Regions from separate parts of the Homo sapiens genome. Here region 1 is linked to region 2. The links come from fine-mapping of genetic effects on gene expression. Tissue or cell type: fibroblasts. Region 2 holds a variant in brackets; the other region holds the start of a gene. All regions are shown on one strand. Distances are between the middles of the regions.

Region 1 (8,153 bases), 58 kb after region 2:
TTGGCAGATGTCTGTCGTGCTTGCAAGAGAGTCCAGGCAGCCATGGGTGAGTGGGGAATTTGAGTTCTGAGGATCAAGAAGTCTAGAGAAGCAGGCGCTGAGCTCAGATTTACACATATAACCAGTGGCTACACAGTGGGCAGCATCACAGTAGCATCGAATTTCACCTGAAAACAATGAGAAACCACCTCAAACTCTGCTCCAGAGACCAGATAAAGCAACTATTTAGGCAACTGCTAAATCCCAAATTCAAAGGCATGAACTTTTAGATCATCCAAGCTGAGGGCTCCAGTCTACAGAGCCTGGAGAAGCCCTTCCTGCAGCCAGTGCGTAAGTTTCAATCCAGTTAAACGTCATTTTGGCAATGTAGTAATCCCAATAGCAGGTTTCTGAGGAGTTTAGAGTCATTTTAAAAAAACTTTTGCTTTTTGAAGGAAATAGTAATGAGTATAATTTCTCCTACCATAAGGTATAACACATTATTTATTCATTTTAATCCTACATGACCATACAACATAAAAATGTTAGGCTTTTTGATTTTGTCAGTATAAATATTTGATCGGAACTACTGAATTGTTTACTATCCCACAGGACTGCACCAAGAGTTAAGAGCTTTAGCTAACACCTTATAAAGTTATTAACTAGAAACACAACAATCTAGAAACTGCCCAGGTCAGGAGGTTTTAAAACTATGAAACTAGGCAGCTATTTGCAACCTCTCTAGAAAAGGCAAACTTTTTGCCTATAAAGATCTTTTCATGCAGAGGAGCTTTTAGTCAGTATATTGTAAAACAGGAACTAGGCAGTTTACAATTAGTGGTTTGCTTGCCAAAGTCAATTTCTTTCAGCCCAAATGGAAAGTCATAAAAGGTGGGGGGAGTATAAAACTGCAAGGCTAACTTCTCCTCCTCCTCCTCACAAGTTTTACATGTAATTCGACATGTGATCTAAAAGGGGAAACACTGAAACTGAAAATCCTCTGCTGGTTGAATGAAAAATCCTTAAGGAAACCTCAAATTTTCTACAGGAAGTGATTAAAAGTTTCCTTTATAAAAACTTATTTTGTGAGTTGCATGGCTCCGTTCACATTTTGTCGCAGGGCAAGATTGGAGGCTTTAATATCAGTTTCTCGTTGAAATAATCTGGGTCTTCAAGTTCTCACTAATACAATATCCACCTAGTGGACCCTGGTCGCTGTCACATGCCACAGCGAGTAAACTAAACTAATGCACACGCCTCTTCCAGTTTCCCGTCTGAAGATCCGAAACCTCCACTCTGAAATTAAACACCGGGATCTGCTGTTTTACAAACCTCTTCCCACCCTTACCTTTATTCTTCCCCCTCTCTCTGAACGCCCCAGTAAGGTGTCTCATTTAATTATCTGTCCAAATTCCAGACCACGGTATTGTATGCTCAGTTTTCACCGGACGCTGCTAATGCTTCGGTTCTAAGGAAAACCAGCCCGCTAAACACAGATCTTTGGCAACCCTTAACAGTCCAAAGCTAGGGGTCTTGCTCCTAAATCTGCACTGGTTGGGCCCAAGTTCCTTCTCTGCTTCAAGTAAGAACCTTGCTTTGCAGAACCACTTCTCTGCTCTTTCTCCTCCTCCCTCCAAGCTCACTTTATTTTCCACATAAAGCTCACCAGTCTTCTGGGGTGATGACTACATATCCCTAGTTTGACAAATTCCATATATAGATTTAAAGTATAAATAAAACAGATTAAAAGCCCATTTTGACCCTATTAGCTTCAGACCTTGTACAGAAAAGGAAGACTGAATACAAGTAAAATGCTGCTTAAATGTTTATGAGAGCCTATTTTCAATGACCTAAAAACAGCCTAATAAAATTTTGACAGGTAACTGGGAAAGTTCTAACTACCTTTTTTTTTTAATTGGAGCCACATTTTAAGCAAGGAGAATGGACTTTTGTACCACTGTATTAAAACTATATTTCTGTCGTTCATAAAGTTTCTTCCTGTGGCATGCAAAAGGCCAGAAAGGGGACTGGTATTTTGAAACTGTGGAACAATGCCCTTCTGTTTCTGTCCCCTTCTCGTTACTGTATGTAGTGATTAAACAAAAATGTCTGCTTTAGTCAAGATGGCTACAGGAGAGACTGCTGGCTTCTTTTAAAGCTTTTGAAGTCCGCAGCCGTCAGAAATCTCTGATCCCCTAATTATATCATTATCAGGCACATAGTTTCGGTATCTGTGACTTCATGTCAGCCTCAGTCCCTCCCTGTTCTGCCCGCCTTTGATAGGGCCAGGAGGCTCCCCTCTGCAAGCCACAAGGGCTGTTATTTAGGGTTAATTACACCCTTCCTTCCAAAATAAATAAATACTGTAGCACATCATCCTCGCTGGGCTAGCTTATGCTTTAACCTCATGCCTGCTACATAGCAATTAAAGAGAAGTAGGGGGCTGCAAAGACTAAACTGCTTCCTACTTAAAAAAATTATCTGTTCACAGAACAGTAGGTAGATTTCACAGCAGGGAGGTGAGGAGAACCTTGAAATTCGGAGACAGTTCGGGTTATTTCTTTCTAAAAGGTGAAAGCCTGCAGAGGAAAGAAGAAACTGACCCGCTGCCTTTTTTTTTTTTTTGGTCCTGTTTGTAAAATATGAGGTGAGTGGCAGTGAGACGCTGACAGAGCCTACTCCTCCCGGCTGCTGAAAAGCAACACAACACACACTTCTGCACACCTCGGACACCTAAACTCTCAGGGAGACCCACACACTCGCTCGCACACAGAGAGATGTACGCAGAGACACACTCACACAGAGACTCAGATGCACATTCAGAGATACAAAGACACTTAGAGACAGACACAGAAATGCATTCAGAAAGACACACTCAAGATCAGAGATACAGAGACTCACACATTCAGAGACACAAAGACTCAGAAAGAGACACAGAAATGCATTCAGAGATACATTCAAAGAGACACAGAGATACGCTGAGTGATACAGAGGTTCAGACACACTTTCAGAAACACAACGACACTCAGAGACACAAAAATGCATTTAGGGATACTGAGACTCAGAGACACACTCACAGAAATACACCCTGAGGCACTCACACAGACACGCTGAGGGCACGCGGCAGCTACAGGCCAGGATCTGCGATTCCTCCCGGCCGCCCGAGCCCCCAGGGTGCGGAAGCGGCGGCGTCGAGGCCGAGACTCCGGCCCCGCTCCCCGCTGGGCTGCAAACGCGCCGCTCCCCGCAGGCAGAGCCAGGAGGACCCTCTGATCAGCGCCTGCCCTTAGATCGGAGTCCGCATCCACGCGCCAGGCCACCGCCGCGACTTCTAAGAACACAGCAACTTGTCGCGACCTGCGGCTCCGGCGCAGGAGGGAGCCTCGCCTGCCGCTAACAAAGCCTCTGCAGCCGGCTCCAAAGCCCCGCGGCGAGGACGGGACCCCGGGCCCCGTGCGCCCCCGGCACCCACCTTTGGTGAGCAGCACGGCCATGGCGCAGAGCTCCAGCTGCAGCCAGATGAAGATGTAGCTGGAGTGGCGATCCATTGACGCCCCGCACGGCCGCGGCGCCCCCGCCGGCTTCCGGAGCCCCGGCTCGGCGGCAGCCTACGACCCCCGGAGCGCGCAGGGCATGGGCCCTGCCCGGAGCGGCGGGCGCCGTCAGCGGCGGGGCTGGGTTTCGGGCCGCTGCCGGAGCATGGAGCGCGGCTACAGGGCGCGCCCAGGAGCCCAGAAAAGTTTCCCGGTCCCCCGTCGGCGGCCACTGGCTCCCTTGCCCCGCTCGACTCTAGGGACGCACGCTAGCCCCGGGTCGGGAGTGGGCTCCCGGCCTTCAGTCCCCGCTAGCGGCCGTTCTCAGCGAAGAGAGTAGGGTCTCCACAGCACGCAAGGGTATCCGCCGCAGCTCCCGCCCGCGCCAGCCCAGGTCTCTCCGGCTCCGCGCCGTAAATAGCGCCCCGCGCCGGGAGCCGGCCTGCACCGCCCCGCCTCGCCCCGCCCCACGGCGTCCGATTGGCCGCCGGGCTCCTGTCAATCCGCCCCGCAGCGGGGGGCGGGCCCAGACGCGAGCGCTGGGGGACCTGCCCGGCGGCTCCGAGCGGCGCCGGCGTCTGGGGCGCCCGGCTGGGGCGCCCGGCTGGTGCGCTGCCGTCTCCCGCGCTCCCCCTTGCGGAGGCCTGCGCGTCAGTGACCTTCGCGAGGCGCCGGGGGAGCCCAGCCCCGGGACCGGCTCGGGAACCCGCCTCCGAGACCCTGACGGCTCAGCCTCGGGTGGTCAGCGTTCCCCAGCGCGGGGCTTCTTTTGGGTGCCCCCCGAAACACGCAGGGGGTCCGTGTGGTCGTCCTCCCCGGCCGCACTGCGTTTTCTGGAACCCCCAGGGGCGAGTGACAATGCCCCGGCCTGTGCAGGTGGCGGAGGAGGGTTCGGGTGGGAGCCCGGGGGAGGCGGCCCAGCGCTGGGGTCTGCATTCAGCCTTCGCCCCCCACCCCCTCAGCGTGTCCGCCTCGAGCTGCCCGCCATGGGATCAATAAAGCCCAGACAGACTGACTGTTGATCCGTTAGGAGCCGCTAGGTTCTCCCGGGTACGCGGGACGAGTAGCGGGCTAGAGACACTTAACGAAAATTAGCAAATCCAAAAGCACCCGGCGCCAACGAGACGACACTGGCCGAGACTGACACTCAATTAACCACCCCCCAAACAATGGCTGGCAAACACGCCGGCTGACCCTGATCAATATCAGCCCCGCAGTGATCTCCTCCTTGAGATGCTAATTCATTTATTAGGGATCGCGGGGCTGCCCTTCCCAAGGTACTCAAGGTGGTCTTGCTGTAGTTTTGTTTCCCCCTCCGCTTTGGAAGGAATTAAGGTTAAAACTCATTATCTGAGGGAATGTTCTTTTATCCTCTCCCTCCAAAACCTGAGATGAACAAAAGTCGACCATTTGCAAAATTCTTCTTGAGAATCTGCCAGAGCTTCCCTACCGGATATGTCAAAAGGGGGTGGGGGGTGGGGAAGGAAAGAAAGAGAAGCACATTTCATGCTAAGGTGAGAATTATAAAGACAAATCCTTTAGGACTAGAGTGCAGACATGAGCTTTGAGACTAAGAAAAATGTACATATGTCTTGAGGACTGAAAGTCAAGGCGAACATATCTCAAACGCCTAACCTTTTAAAGTTGTTGAAAGTCTGCAGAGCTGCAGGATGTAGTTAATGAAATTGTCTTTGAAAAATAATGTTTATGTGCAGAAAAATAAAATAATTTCATAAACTGATGCTCAGACCATTACTTCTCTAGATCAAAATTGCATCTAAAAGGAGAGAAGGAGAAATCCAGTAGAAGTTTTAAAAGAAAATTAAACTGGTTAGGGCACCAGGTAAACAGCAGGTTTCTCAGAAAAGTTTCTCAAGGGGCGTGCTGACAAGGCAGTCCTGGGGCCGAGTTTGATTAGAACTTCCTGGCTACTAGAACCTTGACAAGTTAACAATTGTAAGGGTTTTATGCAGACAAGACTTTTTTTTTTTTTTTTTTTTTTTTTGAGACGAGTCTGGCACTGTCGCCCAGGCTGGAGTACAGTGGCGCGATCTCGGCTCACTGCAACCTTCCGCCTCCCGGGTTCAAGCCATTCTCCTGCCTCAGCCTCCTGAGTAGCTGGGATTACAGGCACCTGTCTCCACGCCTGGCTAATTTCTGTATTTTTATAGAGACGAGGTTTCGCCATGTTGGTCAGGCTGCTCTCGAACTTCCGACCTCGTGATCCGCCCGCCTCGGCCTCCCAAAGTGCTGGGATTTACAGGCGTGAGCCACCGCGCCCAGAGGACAATACTTTTTATGTAATGATTACACTCTCTTTTAGAGTCAATTATTAGCTAAAAGGAAACTTTCAGGGTATGTTAGTTCAACCTGGCCTCCCACCGTAGGCGAGGCTTGCAATGTCTGGGGGTATAAAGATGTCAGAAACTAGATAGTAAATCTCAAAACAATGGAGCTGGACAATAATGGAGATTTATGTGCATGATGTTACAATGCCTAAAAGAAAGAGGTTAACTAGTCTAGGAAGGTAAAGAGAGCCGGTAAAGTCTAGAAGCAATGACATTAAGGATTGGAAGAAGACCATTACAAGCACAGAGGACCACAGGACTTAGGCATGAAATATGATTGTGTAGGTGAGTAGGAGTGGTAAGCAGCGAACAGGTAGTTGGGATGACAAGCAAGTCTTTGTGATTGCAGCATAAAATGTGAAGAAGTGAACAGAGACGTATCAGAAATGAACTATACTTCCCTTTGATACAGATAAATATTTAATGGAAGAGGTCTGGGGAATGTGTTGGTGAAAGTTGCATTCTAGTAGACACTTTCTGAGTGTCTCCCAGCCCAAGTCAGAGAATGTCCCTTTTCCCGGAGTGGGCGTTGGCAACCTGATTAGGAGACTCTGATCTCCTAATCTCTGGCCATAGCTAGTCACATGACCCAGGTTAGGTCAGTTAGATTCTCTCTTCTGTGTCTTTGAGCAGACATGCTGCTCAGTCCCTTGAGGTCATTTCACGGGAGACATAAAAATTTTGCTTTGGGGCAGCTGTAGTCCACCTGTCTGCAGAGGAAGAAAAATAATGAAGATATGCAAAGTGGCAAATACATAAATCCAAATGGATTTCCAGGCACTCAGCGTCACTTCTTGTCCTTAGGTTAATTCAGTAACCTTAATAAAGTCCCCTTTTTACTTAAGGTTCTTTTCCTTGCAACCCAAAGAAACCAAACTAAGATATTTGTATTTTATTGAATTAATGTTGACTTTGAGCACTCCAGGTTGTATATATTTTTTTGTTCCAAGTCCAATTCTGAATAAGAACTTGGGATCCATTTTTTAGACAATGATTTCAACTATTTTGTTTTTATTATTAATGGGCAAACTTTCTAAATGACCAGAAATTAAAGAGAAACAAGTCCGCACTTTATCTAATGGTTCTGGGGAAGACATGGACTTTTCAACTAAATGAATCAGAGTGTTTGAATCAATGTAGAATATCAAAATCAGTTTAGGGATAATGTGTCAATCATAAGGCCATATCAATAGTTGAGAGAATAGGCAACAATTTTAATTCAATTTAACATTCTTAAGGAAAATTGCTTCTCTAGAGAATTTTACTTATGCTTTGCACATAATTCAGTTATTACTTTCCTACATGTAGGTTGATAAGTAGAGGGAAAAAAAATAGTACAATCTACTGTCCTTTTGAAGTTTAAAGCAAGAAATGAAATCAACGACCAAAATTCTTTTTACATCTACAAAGGGATTCCGAAAATACCTAGGAACAAGCTCTCTATACCCAAGAACAGAAAACTGATTCTAGACCTAACTGAAACCGTTAAACAGTAGAATAGTTTTTTATTACCTTCAAACAGCATTCAAGATATAATTTATCCATGGGAGATATATATGTATATATATAGGCGCGAGCCACCATGCCCGACTAATTTTTTAATTTTTTTGTAGAGATGGTGGTCTCCCTATGTTACTGAGGCTGGTCTCAGAATTCCTGGGCTCAAGCAATCCTCCTGCCTGAGCCTCCAAAAGTGCTGGGATTATAGGTGTGAGCCACCATGCTGGCCGTATAGATGTTTTAAAGATTTTAAATGATGTCTTTGAAATTATAGGCTAAACATGTAACTAAATGGCACTAAATTGTGAATGGGAGAGTAGAGAGTTACTTGCTTTTTTTTGCTTTTTTAGAGACGAAGGCCTCCCTCTGTTACTCAGGCTGGAGTACAGCGCTGCAATCATAGCTCACTGTAGCCTCGAACCACTGGCCCCAGCCTCCCAAGTAGCTAAGGTGCTCCCCACTGCATGGGGCTAATTTCTATACTTTTTGTTGAGACAGAGTCTCCTTATGTTGCCCAGGCTGGTCCCAAACTTCTAGCCTCGAGTGACCCTCCCACCTTAGCCTCCCAAGTAGCTGGGATTACAGGTGTGAGCTTGACTATCTTATCAGAGAGTTATTTGTGTTTAAGGGATTCATAGCAGAATAGGAGCTTATTTGTTAGGTGACCAGATAGAACAAAGGAAGATTATACAATCTGAGAAAAGCGCATCAGAAGTTCTTCCCTTAATACCAAGGATAAGAACAAGAATTCTGTTCATTGATGACCTCACTTAGGGTGTACTCTCTTCATAAC
Region 2 (8,197 bases):
AGGACTCAAATATAGAAGTATGGAGTCCTTCTCAGGCCATATTTAGTTTGCTTTAAAAGCAGGCTTTGACACAGTGACCATTCCCTTTTTGAACCATGCTCTCCCTTGGCCTCCATGATGTTGCTCTTCCCTGGCTCTCCTCTGAGCTCTCGGGCTGTTCCAACTCAGTCCTCTGCCTTCTCTGTCCATGTTGAGGCTCTTCCATGTTCTGCCTTTAACTCTTTTCTATCCACATCTCCCGGGGATTTCACCTATATATCCATAGATCTCTTATCACCTATGCTGTGACATTAAACCATCTCTCTCCTGCCCTTTCCTGAGTACAACATGCCCCCCAAACTCAACGTGCCACAAACTCATGATCTTCCTAGCCATCTAGATCTGCTGCCCCTCTTCTTGTGTCCTCAAGCTCAGTCAAGAACACAAGTGCCATCCATTCACTCTGGAGGAACCTGGGAATCATTCCAGCCTCCTTCATCTTCCCAAAATGCCCCATCCAATCAGGGACCTGATTCTGCCTCTTCTGCATCTCTCGTGTCCCTTTCCCCACTCTACCTCTGCAGTGAAACAGTCTGACTTTACACCTTTGTCCTCTCCCTCTTGAATCATTGCAATTGTCTCTCAACAAGTCTCCTCTAGTCTCAGCAACCACCATCCTTCTCCACATGTCACCAAAGCAACAATTCTAAGGAGCAAACCTTGACCTGCTCTTCCACGGCCTGGGATCCAAGTTTATGTCTGCATCGGGAAGCAATGAGTGGGTAGATATCTGTCATAAGATAGTAGATCTTACTGAATTTGAGTGGGAGGGAAAGTGGTGAATCAGTCCAACCATGAAAATGAAAATTATTCTAGATATTTCAAACAGAGGGCATTTAATACAGGGAAGTGGCTGCAAAAGTGTTGGAAGACCTGGGGGCTCAGAAGACAGTGAGGAAGTCCAAAAAGTTGGCCTGAAGGGGGCAGTGTTCCTGGAGTCCAGGATCTGGCAGAAGCTGGTGGAAGGTGGAACCACCGCAGGGACATCTTCTGGGATCAGGAACCTAGAAGAGACATGATTACTATTGGAGATGCCAGAAAGAGAGGACAAAATGTGCCTTGATCTCTTCCTACCACTTACCCTCCAATCTCATGCCAGTGCCTCCCATTGGCCAAACCCAGCCAGAAGGCAATTATGGAAATTCTGGAAAATGATTTTCCTACAATACAGACCAGAGCAAGGGAAGGGTAGAGAATGAATCTGATAGCAAACAGGCAAATGACTGGCATAAAATTGTAGAACATTTATACATCCACAGGGTTTTTTCAAAGATAGAAAGCTCAGTAGTCAGACCATCTGATTCCACATGTGATCGCTGGAAACCTTCAACTTCTTCGCCAGGCATGGCTTGCTCAAACTTAGCTTTTTAGAAACTCTTCAAATTAGTCAGCTCATGTATTTGTCCCCTAAATACAGAATGAATATTTCTTGGCTCAAATTGTTTCCTTCTGTCTAGAATAATGATCTTGCTCTTTCTACTTATTTAAATCAAACACATCTTTGGACTCTCAGTTTTTTCTTTTGCTTTTGTTTTTTGTTAGGGATGGCATCTTGCTCTGTCACCCATGCTGGAGTTCAGTGGCACAATCATAGCTCACTGCATCCTTGAATTCCTGGATTTAATTGATCCTCCTGCCTCAGCCTTCCTATTAGCTGGGACTACAGATGTGAGCCACCATGCTCGGCTAGAATGCTAGTTTAATTCCAAACTCTTTCACTAGCATTTCCTGACAACTACTATCGGGATAGGGTTGAAAAGTGTTATCAATTCTAGCGAACCATGGTATGGTTGAAAAGTTACAGGATACACAGCTAAAATCTATTCACTATAAGGTAAGGGGTGTCATGGATGAGTGGTGACTATCTAGACCAGTGGTGCCAGTGATGAAAGCATTTACCAAGACAGTTGTAGGTAAAGAAAGGCAGATTTATTAGAGGAAGTAGAAAAATACGTTGCAGGGGAGCAACAGGCAGGCCAGCAAAAAGGAGCTGACTGTCAGGAGACAAAGGCTTGCTGGGGATTTTAAACAATAGTGTTTGTGCTTGTGCTGAAGAGGGCTTTATGCAGTACTGATATTGCCAAGGTTGCAGCGAGCTAACTTGCATTTTTCTATCAGCTGAGGGTCTGGTGATAGCTGAGTGCAGGAAGATTGTAAGTTACTTGTGCAGGAGGGTTATGTGTCTTGGATCATGAAGAAGGGCAGATTTGTAGCTTATCTGCTTCTTTTTGCATTCCTTTGGTCCCACCAGCCCAACTCCTTTTCTCTAATTAGAACTCCACAAGGGGAACTTCTGGTGCTTCCTCCATGAAAAGGATGACCATCAAGACATTAATATAACATCTGGCCTCTCACCGTCTCTTATTCACTCTGTCTAAGAGGAGGTAGAAACACTTTTCTGAGAAGAATATACTGGGCATGAAACCATCATCACAGGGTTAACAAGAATTCCATGGCAGGTTCTGGACAGAAATAAGGTTACAATTAAGCATTCATCAGGCTGCACTTTGCCCACTTCCATGTAACTGAAAGTCACATAGCACCAGATACAGACCTTTTGCATCCCCACTGTTCCTGTAGATAGGATCTCTGATGATAGAATCATAAAGCTTTTGTTTAAGAATTACTTAAGATGCTTTTCAGACCCTGCATTCTAGTGAAACGGCTGACACAAACCAGTTTGAAGACCCCACAGAGGAACCGAGTCCGCATGAAAATAGCTTCTTCATCACCCCATCCTATGACTTCACCCTGCACTCTTCAACCCATGAAAAATCCCTACAGCTCAATCCACTCTAAACCCATTAAAATCCCTGGCCCCCCAGCCACGCCAGCATAGTGAGACCCCTATCTCTACAAAAAATAAAAAATTAGCCAGACATGGTGGTACACACCTGTAGTCCCAGCTACTCGGGAGACTGAGGTGGGAGGAAGGCAAGACCTACGGAGAGAGAGAGAGAGAGTCCTAACTTCCATTTTTATATATATAATATATATATTATACATATATGCAAATATAGGAATATAGAAATATATATAAATGCAAGTCCTATACTTGCATTTATGTATATTCCTAGCCCCAAACTCCTTGGGGAGGTGGATTTGAGGTTTCCTCCTGTCTCCTTGTTCAGCGGCCTTACGATTAAACCTCTTTCTCTGCTGCAACCCTCAGTGTTGGTATACTGACTTGCTGCACATCGGGCAATGTACTTCTTATGGTCATAGGCATTCTTGGATCAGCTACACCCTTTTCCCTCTTGGAAGTGAACTTAACTGCAAGCACCAAGAGTCCTCTGTTTCTCCATGCTGTAAGTTTTACCTGGTCCAGTGCCTACATGAGTGTGGGGTAAGTATGTTGAATTTTGGAATTACTTCACAGGTCCATTTGGTTCTTGCAGTGAGCTATGGCTTCCAATTTAACCTTGAACAAAAATAAAGGAGAACTGTGGCCCATCTGCTACTCTGGACCTGTCAGGTTTTTCAGAACTTGAGCAGGAAAAACAGGTGCCATTTATCAGCACTCCTCCTCCCACAAGAAACTCTAACATGTGATTTTCATCTCAGGTTCTTATGCATAGATTCCTTGATAGTCATGTTTTGGGTTTTGTTTGTTTGTCTGTTTGTTTTGTTTTGTTTTGTTTTAGAGACAGGGTCTCACTCTGTCACACAGGTTGGAGTGCAGTGGCACAATCATGGCTTCCTACAGCCTCAAACTCCTGGGCTCAAGCGATCCTCCTGCCTCAGGATCCTGAGTAGTTGGGACAACAGGTGCATGCCAGCATGCCTGGCTAATATTTTCTTTGTAAAAATTGTTTATAGAGACAGGGTCTCATCATGTTGCCCAGGCTGGTCTCGAACTCCTGGCTTCAAGCAATCCTCCCAGTTCAGCCTCCCAAAGCACTGGGATTAGAGGCATGAGTCACACTTGGCCAATATCCACTTTTTGTTTCACCCCTCTATCTCTGATCTGGTTCTTCCTGGACTTTTGCTATGACATGGCATTTCTCTATTCTGAAATGTCAGCAAAGTGGACCCTGATCTCCACCCCTGCTAAGTTTGCTGGATGGCTTCAGATTCTGCCTCCCTGCTCTTTGCCAGAGCAACCAATACTATTGGGA[C/T]GACTCATCTCCAGCCCACAGCGATCTCTAATTCTTTTGAGCACTTGGTGAGGCATGATAGCATAGTTGCTAAGAACATGGGCTCTGTAGCCAGACTGCCTGCATTTGAACAGTTTCCCCATTTAACAGCTGTCTAGCCTTGGGCAAGATACTTAAACTCCCTATAATATGGCATTACATAATAATTGATGCTCTTAAACATGACATGAATCATCAAGCAAAGTTTAAAATCTGTCCAGCATGCTCTGTTTAAGAAAGTGAAAAATATGTAACACATTCTACGAATATTTTTGTCTACAAAAGTTTACAAAATGTTGGTGCTTAAAAGGCTAAGCTTTGATTATCTCAAAACATAATTTAGAAAGGATGCATCACTTCCTGACACAATTGCATAACTGAAGCATGAGTATTAAAACTTTTGGGAAGGTTGGCTGGGTGCGGTGGCTCACGCCTGTAATCCCAGCACTTTGGGAGGCCAAGGCAGGCAGATCTCCTGAGGTCAGGAGTTCAATACCAGCCTGGTCAACATGGTGAAACCCCGTCTCTATTAAAAATACAAAAATTAGCCAGGGGTGGTGATGCACACCTGTAGTCCCAGCTACTCAGGAGGCTAAGGCAGGAGAATCGCTTGAAACCGAGAGGCAGAGGTTGCACTGAGCCAAGATCAAACCACTCCAGCCTGGGCAACAAGAGTGAAACTCCGTCTCAAAACCAAAAAAAAAAAAAAAAATTTGGGACGGCATCCTGGTAGAGTGGAAGAGGTCCATATTTGAAAGCAGGCCTGAGTTTGAATCCCATTTCTGGCACTTGCTGTGTAAACACATGTAAGTTGTTTTATCTTCTTAAGCACCTGTATCTGTCTGTGAAAATGGGGATTGAAATTACTACCTTGCAAAATCATCATGAAGCTTAAATGAAATAATGTAGGTGCAAGAGGATACATGGGCAGCAGCTCTAGGGGTGAGGTGGGGTTCTTCAACAGCCACTACCCCAACCTACTGGGATTTGGACTATGAGTGCTGTGAGTGGAGTTGGACAGAATTCTTCTGCCCACTCACCTATTTGCCCCAGGAATTTACATAGGAACAGGAAGACTCTTGCAGAGAAAGAGATCTTTTCCCCTTGCTATTCAAAATCATTTAAATATATCTGATGGGCTTAACAGGACAATGAGGTCCCTGAGAGAGAATTCTCCCTGAGGGCAGAAGGAGAAGCACACAGGTAACTCCCTAGGTAAGGGCTGAGGAACAAGATGAGCATTGACCCTGGTTCATGACTTAAATCTGTCCTGATTTAGCCTGGTGACAGGCTCATGCCTTGAGAAGAGGCTTTGTGAATGATTCTAAAGAGCTAATGAAGCCATATGATATGCACAAAGGACATCCAAAGCAGTGCTACGAGGGAAATGTGTAGCCTTAAATGCATACAAGAAGAATTGAAATAAATAAAGCATCTAAATCAGGAAAAAGCAGGCAGAAGAAACAGTAAATAAAAGCAGAAATAAATTTGAAAGAAAGAATTATAAAACTAATAAGTATATAACAGAGCTAATCATAGGAAAAAGCAGGCAGAATAAACAGCAAATAAAAGCAGAAATAAATTTGAAAGAAAGAATTATAAAAATAGTAAGTATATCAAAGAGCTAATCATAGGAAAAAATACCCTTCTTTTCCATACCTGTTGGGTGTGAATGGATTACATACTCAAAAATTAACTTATGAGATGATAGATAGATAGATAGATAGATAGATAGATAGATAGATAATAGATATAAATGATAGATTAGATAGATAGATAGATAGATAGATAGATAGATAGATAGATAGATAGATAGATAGATGATAGATAGACAGACAGATAGATAGAATAGTTGTAGAGCTGGGGACCCACCCTGTCTTAGCTCCCTAGAAAGAAGTCTGTAGTAAGAAAGGTGGGTCCTGTCTTATTCCTGGGCACCATACTGCTGTCCCCTGGGCTCGCCAGCAGAAACTCATTTTGTCAGGAGAATGGCTCTCTTGGGTCCCCCACTTAATGGGACAGCACACCCAACTTCCCTCCACTTTTTTTTCCTCTCATGCCCACATCCAATCTATCAGCAAATCTTTTTTTCTCTACTTTAGTAATAGATCAGGCCAGGCTCAGTGGCTCATGCCTGTAATCCCAGCACTTTGGGAGGCCGAGGTGGGCGGATCACCTGAGGTCAAGAGTTCGAGACTAGCCTGGCCAACATGGCAAAACCCTGTCTCTAGTAAAAATGCAAAAAATTAGCCGGGTGTGATGATGGGTGCCTGTAATCCCAGCTACTTGGGGAGCTGAGGCAGGAGAATTGCTTGAACTCAGGAGGCGGAGGTTGCAGTGAGCCAAGATCAAGCCACTGCACTCCAGCCTGGGCGACAGAGCGAGACTCTGTCCCAAAAAAAAAAAAAAAAAAAAAGTATAGATCGGAATCCAACACTTCTCACACCTCCATCCCAGCCACGCTGATCTAAGCCTTCTCATCTCTCACCCGGATTATTAACAGCCTCCTAACCAATCTTTCCATCACCTCTTGCAGTTTTTCTCTCAACACAGCAGCCAGAGTGGTCTTTTTATAACAGGTCAGTCATGGCATTCCTCTATCCAAAATCCCCCAGAGGCTTCCCACCTCCTTCAGAGTAAATGACCAAGCCCTTTCGAGGCCTACAAGGCCTTTGATAATCTACCTCGCAACACACAAGCATCCCACACCAACTGCGTCCCCTACGCCTCTCCTAAGCACTTACTGAGCTCTGAAAACCGGCCCCCCTCACATGTTCCCACGTAAATGCCTGTGCCTTTGGGGTTTCTTCCGCCTGGAACTGTTTCACCCCAGACATCACACAACTCCCTCACATCCTTCAGCTCTTGGTGAGACACAGGTTATCAGCGAGGCCTTTCCTGACCACCTACTTAAAATAGCAACCTCACTCTCCTGGCTACACACACGCCCAGCCGGTCAACACTTTCTCTGCCTATTTCCCTCTGCAGGACTTATAGACTTACCAGTTACTGCATTTGCTCACTCATTTTTTAGCTCCTTCCATTAGAATATAATTTCCTAGAGGCAGAGATTAGATGTGTCTTGGTCACTGTGTCCCCAGTGCCTAGAACCATTTCTGGCACATTTGAGGTACTTAGTAAATTAAGAGAGTAAATGAATGAATGAATGTATCTGTGGTGCTGAAAGCAAGAATACCACTGAGGCTGAGCAAGGTTGCTCACGCCTGTAATTCCAGCACTTAAGGAGACCCAGGCAGGAGGATCATTTGAGCTCAGAAGTTCGAGATCAGCCTGGGCAACATGGCGAGATCCCTGTCTCAACAGAAAAATACAAAAATTAGTGGGCGTGGTGGTGTGTGCCTGTAACCCCAGCTACTTGGGAGGCAGAGGTGGGAGGATCGCTTCAACCCAGGTGGCAGAGGTTTCAGTGAGCTGAGATCCATGCCACTGCACTCCTACCTGGGTGACAGAGCAAGATTCTGTCACAAAATAAATAAATACAACAGAAAGGGAAAAACAAAACAGATCTTAAGCAAAGTCCTTACCCTTCAAAATGAGTCTTGTAACAATAGAAACAAGAAGACTGGGCGCAGTGGCTCACGCCTGTTATCCCAGCACTTTGGGAGGCCAAGGCTGGTAGATCCCTTGAGGCCAGGAGTTTGAGACCAGCCTGGCCAACATAGAGAAACCCCATCTCTACAAAAAATACAGAAATTGACCAGGCATGGTGGTGCAGGCCTATAATCCCAGCTACTCGGGAGGCTGACACACAAGAATTGCTTTAATCTGGGAGGCAGAGGTTGCAGTGAGCCGAGATTATGCCACTGCACTACAGCCTGGGTGACAGAGTGAAACTCTGTCTAGAAAGAAAAGGAAAAGAAAAGAAAAGACAGAGAGAGAAAGAGAGAGAGAGAGAAACAGAGAGAGAAAGAGAGGAAGAAAGAAGAAAGAAAAGAAAGAAAAAAAGAAAGAAAAGAAAGAAGAAAGAAAGGAGGGAGGGAAGGAAGGAAGAAAGAAAGAAA

What was found. PIP is the estimated chance that this variant, and not a neighbour inherited with it, causes the effect.
Region 1: BAMBI starts here. The variant in region 2 is fine-mapped to the expression of BAMBI in fibroblasts (GTEx, PIP above 0.99).

What each region holds. Positions count from the first base shown.
Region 1 is chr10:28,673,272-28,681,424 of GRCh38, reverse strand. It overlaps BAMBI (BMP and activin membrane bound inhibitor), which reads right to left and starts at 3,904. Exons shown (of 3, transcript NM_012342.3): 1 at 3,452-3,904; 2 at 1-167. The coding sequence starts at 3,527. RefSeq lists silencers at 3,007-3,151, 3,877-4,436.
Region 2 is chr10:28,731,162-28,739,358 of GRCh38, reverse strand. No RefSeq gene overlaps it. Among named protein-coding and RNA genes, the nearest start is that of LINC01517, 8.4 kb to the left of the region's middle. The variant C/T (reference allele first, on the strand shown) is at 4,158.